2 linked regions of the Homo sapiens genome follow. The protein of the gene in region 1 purifies or fractionates together with the protein of each later gene. This does not show direct contact. Each region holds a gene or a part of one and is shown in the gene's direction. Other genes may lie near its edges. The genes, in order: RNF14 and PNPLA7.

The links.
Region 2: the proteins of RNF14 (region 1) and PNPLA7 purify together in Homo sapiens (affinity purification with western blotting; one study listed by BioGRID). This does not show direct contact.

Annotation. Positions count from the first base shown.
Region 1 is NC_000005.10:141,975,314-141,979,130, forward strand, and holds part of RNF14 (E3 ubiquitin-protein ligase RNF14), read left to right. Parts: intron 1-2,989; coding exon 2,990-3,517; intron 3,518-3,817. UniProt on the Homo sapiens protein: E3 ubiquitin-protein ligase that plays a key role in the RNF14-RNF25 translation quality control pathway, a pathway that takes place when a ribosome has stalled during translation, and which promotes ubiquitination and degradation of translation factors on stalled ribosomes.
Region 2 is NC_000009.12:137,466,857-137,470,673, reverse strand, and holds part of PNPLA7 (patatin-like phospholipase domain-containing protein 7), read left to right. Parts: intron 1-3,200; coding exon 3,201-3,357; intron 3,358-3,817.

The DNA of each region.
Region 1 (3,817 bases):
TCCATTCCTTAAATGAAAGATTCCATTGTAATTAGGACTAAAAATTGAGCTAATGTAGTTATAATAAGCAAATTTTCTGAGTGAATACAATAACTGATTTTCTTTGTAAAAATCTGTATTAATAACAAATAACAGTCAACTGGTATCACGTAGACATAAATGCATACAAGTAGAAATGTGTATAGTTCCTGTAGATATCTCAGTAAGGCTTGAGGCCTTATGTTAAGCACCTCATTTCCTCTGGGTTATATATACTTTTCTAGTAACAACCTCAACTCTTGATTGAGACATAAATATGGCTTGAAGCTAAATATAAATAATATAAAGCATTCTGGGAGAGATAATGAATCAGCAGCTGCTTTTCTAGAAGTCATAATGAAGATCAATAGACTAATGTGTATTAAGACAAAAGCTCAGCCTGTGCAACATGGCGAAACCCAATTTCTACAAAAAATACAAAAATTAGCCAAGTGTGGTGGTGCGTCCCTGTAATCCCAGATACTTGGGAGGCTGAGGTGGGAGGATCACTTGAGCCTGGGTGGCAGAGATTGCAGTGAGCCAAGACTGAGCCACTGCACTCCAGCCTGGGTGACAGACAGAGACCCTGTCTCAAAAAAAAAAAAAAAAGAAAAAGACAAAAGATGTCAGAGTTGCTGACCTCAAGGAATAGCTCATTAGTTTTTCTCTTTGGATCATACAGTTTTCATTTCCCCATCCACCAATCTAATCTTTTAAGTGAGAGTACTTTCACAAACTAGAGCTTATGGTTTAAAAGCAAAATTAAACCTTAAAAAGGATAACACAGGTAGAATAAAAAGGAGTATTACTTTACATTCTAATGTCTGTGCCAGAGGCAACAGATGCAAGACAGTTGATTTGTCCAGGAATATCAAGACTGTTTGGCATTTAGGCCACTGATAGTTGGCTTAATTATTTAGATCTTCATAGTCCTATTTCACCAGAGAGCTTTTCATACTTTACATCCACGCATGTGCGTGCATGCACGTGCATGCACACACACGCACAAAACAGGGACAGATTAACTGGATGCGTGGTTGTGGTTTCAGATTCCAGCCAACCAGCATCTACTTAATGCTGGATTTGGGGGCGGAGGTGTGTGCTGGGGAAGAGAGTTGTTTTATGTGTTACAGCTAAAATTACAGTAGAATTCTTAATCAAATAAATGTTTATGCATATAATTAACATTTTAATTGGTCTCTTATATTCCTTCTTGGTTCAGTTCTTGTTTGTTGCTGTACCCTGATTCCTTGGCATTATGACTCTCACCTGTTAATGGTGAAATTGACACATAGAGCTGTCATTCCCTGAATTGGGGCGGGTAGACAGAGGGAAGTGGTTTTAGTTTTCTAAAACCTTATTCCTTATTCCTCCCCCAATATACTTACACAGTCTCTTTCCCGTCCCCCTTCCATTTACATGCATTCCAGCTGCCTTTCTCTCTCTTTTTTTTTTTTTTTTTTTTTTTTTTTTTTGAGATGGAGTCTTGCTCTGTCACCCAGGCTGGAGCACAGGGGCACAATCTCAGCTCACTACAACCTCTGCCTAGTGGGTTCAAGTGGTTGTCCTGCCTCAGCCTCCCAAGTAGCTGGGAATACAGGCGCCCGCCACCACACCTGGCTAATTTTTTGTATTTTTTAGTAGAGACAGGGTTTCACCATGTTGGCCAGGCTGATCACCAACCCCTGACCTCAGGTGATCCACCCGCCTTGGCCTCCCAGAGTTCTGGGATTACAGGCATGAGCCACCACGCCCAGCCCCAGCTGCCTCTCTTGAGAAGGGACTGGGGTAGAAAAGAGGTTGGAGAATGGCTTCTTCATAGGACTTGGTAGCTCACACAGCACTCATAGCTTCCCTTTTAGTATTTATCACATTTTACAGATGTTAGCAGATTTCTCAAAAGCATGGTTGATTTATAAGGATATTTATGCAAATGTGAAAAATCATTAGTTGTTCAATCTTAACTCATCAATAAGTATTTAAGGTAGTACCTATGCAGGGTTTAGTCAGTGGCACTACACAGAGTGTAAGAAACAGAAAATCTGGTCCCTTTTCATTTGTCATTTAAATTTACAAAATTTGTTTGCCATCTGGAAGGCATATTTTTGGATGTTTACCTAAAAAAGAAAAGCTGCTTATAATTCCTGTGCTCTAGTTAAAAATATTTTATATTTCTAATGGAAAATTCTCCAACATTTGCCTTTCAAATTGAACAGACCACTTTTAAAGAGGAAAATTCCAAATAATTTAATTTTGGTTGCTTAGCTTAGGAAGTGTAAGCTTTCTCTATGGCTGCCAAACCTTGCTGAGGGCTTGTGATTAGGACCAGGGTCAATATCAGGCAGCTTCCCTCCATTAACCAGGATCTGATATAAGCCCAGATTGCTTACTTAAAAGCAGCTTGTAAATCTGAACAAGGACTCTGAGGTTGAATTCTGTTAGTGATTGTTTCAGATGAGTTGACTTTTTGATAAAACTGAAAGAATTAATTTTAAAACTTGGATAGTATTTTTAAACTATTCTTTTTCTAACCATTATTCTAGGATACGAACAGGGCTAGGACTCCTAATGGAAGAAAAATAGTTTATTTTTAGAACTAGATCTCTTTGTCCTACATGAGGTATATGGCAGTACTAAAAGATTAAAGAACAGAAAAAAGTCTTCCATTTCAGTGGCTAAAATGTACAGCTATTTCTCTACCTTACGGAGTCTTGCTATTTCTCTTCTTCTCGTGGTACTTCTTGCTTCTGACTTTATGTTCTACTCTGGCTCATGTTGCCGAATAGTTTAAGAAGTGCTCCAGTAAGAATGTTTGTACTGTTTTGTATGTAGCACAGTGTATCACAGCAGTAAAAAATAGTGTTAGAATAAGGGCCTAACTTGCAAGTGGAAAAGATTTCTAGGGAAACCAGGAGTTGGCAGCAGCATCATCTTTCCAAACTCACCAACATCTTCATGTGTTTTCTCCTAGCTATCTGCTCTATGCAAGCACTTAGACAACCTATGGGAAGAACACCGTGGCAGCGTGGTCCTGTTTGCCTGGATGCAATTTCTTAAGGAAGAGACCCTAGCATACTTGAATATTGTCTCTCCTTTTGAGCTCAAGATTGGTTCTCAGAAAAAAGTGCAGAGAAGGACAGCTCAAGCTTCTCCCAACACAGAGCTAGATTTTGGAGGAGCTGCTGGATCTGATGTAGACCAAGAGGAAATTGTGGATGAGAGAGCAGTGCAGGATGTGGAATCACTGTCAAATCTGATCCAGGAAATCTTGGACTTTGATCAAGCTCAGCAGATAAAATGCTTTAATAGTAAATTGTTCCTGTGCAGTATCTGTTTCTGTGAGAAGCTGGGTAGTGAATGCATGTACTTCTTGGAGTGCAGGCATGTGTACTGCAAAGCCTGTCTGAAGGACTACTTTGAAATCCAGATCAGAGATGGCCAGGTTCAATGCCTCAACTGCCCAGAACCAAAGTGCCCTTCGGTGGCCACTCCTGGTCAGGTAACTGTTTACCCTGCTGATGGTTGCCTCCTAATTCTCTTCCATAAATGGAGATATCATCTCAGGAACTTCCTTGATAGGGCTCATGGGGCAGTCCGAGGCCTTGGAGCCAGCCCACAAGTTGTTTTGCTGTATCCATTAAAAATGCTATGGTCTTAGTCTACTGCTTAAGCAAATGGAATGCTTCCTTTGGCCTTGCAGTGGGCAAGGATGAGTGTTAAAGTAGTTATTAAGTAATTGTGATAATTTACTTTGTATATCTGCTAGTAGGATCCCATAAACCTTGGGGAATCACTAGCT
Region 2 (3,817 bases), on another chromosome or scaffold:
ATGTCTTTACCGGGTTTGGTATGAAGGTTTGTTTGTTGGCTTCATAAGCTTAAGTGGGAAGTTCATCTTCTTTTCCTATTCTCTAGAAGGTTTTTAAAAAATTTTTATTTTTACTTTTTTATTTTTATTTATTTTCTTTGAGACAGTGTCTCATTCTGTTGCCCAGGCTGGAGTGCAGTGGTGTGATCACAGCTCGCTGCTGGGATTACAAGTGTGAGCCGCTGCGCTCAGCCAGAAATGGAATCTGTAACTTTTAAATCCCCACAAAGAAAGTTTCATATCCAGATGGTTTCACTGGTGAATTTTATGAAACGTATAAGGAATAAATAAAACAAATTTTACATAAAACCTTCCAAGAGGCCAGGCGCGGTGCCTCACACCTGTAATCCCAGCACTTTGGGAGGCCAAGGAGGGAGGATTTCTTGAGCCCGAGAGTTCCAGACCAGCCTGGGCAACATAGTGAGACCCCATCTTTATAAAAAATGAAAAGATTAGCTGGGTGTGATATGGTCGTAGCTACTTGGGAGGCGGAGGCAGGAGGGGGATCACTTGAGCCCAGGAGGTTGAGGCTGCAGTGAGCTGTGATCACACCGCTGCACTCCAGCCTGGGTGAGAGCTAGACCCTGTCTAAAAATAAAAATAAAAAATAAATAGATTAAATTTATTTAATCTTTACTGAGTTACAGTACTACTCATATGTTCTATTTCTTATGTTATTTTGGTGAGTTAGGTTTTTCTAAAAATGTGCCCATTTTATCTGAATTTTTCTATTTATGGCATGAAGCTGTTCAGTATTTTAAACTAAAGCATCTGCACCAATGTTCCCATTTTCTTTCCTGTTCATCATTGATGCTTTCTCTCTTTCATTTCCTTGATCGGCTTCACCCGGGCTGTCCGTCGAATTGGTCCCTCCAACACCAACTTTCATCTTTGTCAATCTTCTCTATGTTTGTTTTTGGCTCTTTAAGTTATGCTCTTATCTTTGTTATTTGCTTAATTTTACTCTTTTATTTAAGTTGTTCTTTTTTCCCTAACATTTAGACGAGCAGACATTGTCTATAAAGAAACAGATAGTAAATATATACTCTCTCACAACCACTCAGAGGATAGAAAAGTTAAGGTAACGCATCTTTTATTTTCTCAGGCTCGCTTAAAGGTTTTTTCTTTCCTTGGGTTTTTGACAACATGAGAATGGTTTTCTTTTGATTTATGTTAGGATTTATCATGCTTCCTGATTCTGAGGCCTGATGTCTGTCTGTAGAACATGCCACACTGTCTCTTCAGATACAGCTCCCTCCCTGTCTGCTTTCTGTGGCTCTGATCACACATACATTAGAGTTTGGTGCCAGATCCCATGTTTCCTAAACTCCCTTACAGATTTTGTAAAACAATATTGTTACATATTCTGTCCTCTTGATGCTTCATGATTCAGTGACTGTTTCTGACCCATCTTGTATTTTACCATTTCTCTCTTCAGCTGTTCTGTTCTGCCGTTAGACCCACTCATTGAGCTTTTCATTTGTTATTATATTTTTCACTTCTAGAATTTTCATTTGGTTTTATGCCAGAATTAACACTCTTGTTTTTAATTCCTTGAACTTGGGTTTTTGTTTTTGTTTTGTTTTTTCTGAGACGGAGTTTTGCTCTTGTTGCCCAGGCTGGAGTGCAATGGTGCGATCTTGGCTCACTGCAACCTCCACCTCCCAACTTGAACTTGTTTTTAAGGCTTATACCTGAGTAATATTCTGTGGCAGTATTACATATGGTTTTTTTTATTATGTTAAAATATACATAACATAAAATTTACCACTTAACCATTTTTGAGTATCCAATTAAGTATTAATATATCATATTAATATAATTAATGATACAATGTTGTTACAATGTCGTGAAATGAACAATTGCCACTGTTCATTTCCAGAACTTTTTTATAGACAGGGTCTCACTCCAGTCCAGGCTGGAGTGCAGTGGTGTGACGTCAGCTCAGTGTAGCCTTTGACGTCTTCCCACCTCAAATCTGCCCCCATGATCCAGTTACCTCCCACCGGGTCCCTCCTCCAACACTGAGGATTAAAATTCAACATGAGATTTCGGTGGGGACAGAGAGCTAAACCACAGCAAATGCCTCCAGGGTCCCCCCCAGCTGTGGCTTGCATCCGAGCTCCCTCCTTAGAGCTGGGTGCTCTTCCCTTGTCTACTTTGTACCCATTCATCAGCTGTTGCCACCTTTTGGCTCCCTGCACACTTTAAGCGTGGTCATTGTAAAAGCCTGTGTCTGTATCTCTTACCTGGGAGGCACTCTGGGCCCACTTTCATTGTCTGTTTTTTCTTTTGGCTATGAGGCCAAAAGGAAAGCCTATATGAGGCTTTTCTTCTCATATGACTGGTAATCTTTGGTTGAGTGGTGGACATTCTGTATGAAAGCAGCAGTAGCAATTAGAGGCCCTGGGTGCCGGCTGCCTGGTCTCGGGGGTGCCCCCTGGTCTCGGGGGTGCTCCCTGGTCTCATGGGTGCTGGTCTACATCCAGCTCATCTGACTCCTGGGGTGCTGCCCCTCAGGATGCTTCCCAGGCTCCTCCCTTCCAGGGCCCCTCAAGTCCAGTTTTCCCACCACCTCTCAGACGCCCTGCTGGAGGCAGCCGTGTTTCCGGGTAGAAGAGGCCAATGCCGGTCAACTCTCAGGACACCTTCCTCCCCATCCCAGCCTCACAGTCCCTCAGTACCTCCAGAAGGAAGGATTTCATTTATTTAATTAATTTATTTATTTATTTATTTTGAGTCAGAGTCTCACTCTGTCTCCCAGGCTGGAGTGCAGTGGTGTGATCTCAGCTCACTGCAACCTCTGTCTCCTGGGTTCAGGTGATTCTCCTGCCTCAGCCTCCCGAGTAGCTGGGATTACAGGCGCGCACCACCACGCCTGGCTAATTTTAGTATTTTTAGTAGAGATGGAATTTTGCCCTGTTGGCCAGGCTGGTCTCGAACTCCTGGCCTCAAGTGATCTGCCCGCCTTGGCCTCCCAAAGTGCTGAGATGACAGGCGTGAGCCCGGAAAGAGGGGTTTTAAACTGCATCTGGAGTCCCTCTCTGCGTCAGCGTCTCTGCCTGTGGAGGAGTTGGGAACTGAGGATGAGCACAAGGCCTCTGCAGGGCGCAGCCTGGGCCTGGTACTCACTCCTTGCTCTGTGTCCCTGGCTGGTGTAGAGGCTGTGCCCAGGTGGGCGTTCTCAAGGCCTTGGCGGAGTGCGGCATCCCTGTGGACATGGTGGGAGGCACGTCCATCGGGGCCTTCGTGGGTGCCCTGTACTCTGAGGAGCGGAACTACAGCCAGATGCGGATCCGGGCCAAGCAGTGGGCCGAGGTAAGCAGGCACCCATCACCCTCACCGGAGCACAGCCCCCAGGTCCTTGCTGGTGCTGGGGGACGCTGGGGCCGTTGGCCTCTGCATGTGGCTCTGCAGGGCCCTGCCCTCGAGGAGGCTACCCCCTGAAGCCTCCCAGTGCAGCTTGTGAGGCAAAGGAGCACCACAGAGAAGGCACAGATGCAGGTTGGTGGTGGGAGGCGGTCTGATCTGTGCCCAGGTCTGAGTTGGTGGAGACGGTGGTGGGAGGTGGTCTGATCTGTGCCCGGGTCTGAGGTGATGGAGACGGTGGTGGGAGGCGGTCTGATCTGTGCACGGGTCTGAGATGGTGGAGACGGTGGTGGGAGGCGGTCTGATCCGTGCCCGGGTCTGAGATGGTGGAGACGGTGGTGGGAGGTGGTCTGATCCGTGCCCGGGTCTGAGTTGGTGGAGACGGTGGTGGGAGGTGGTCTGATCCGTG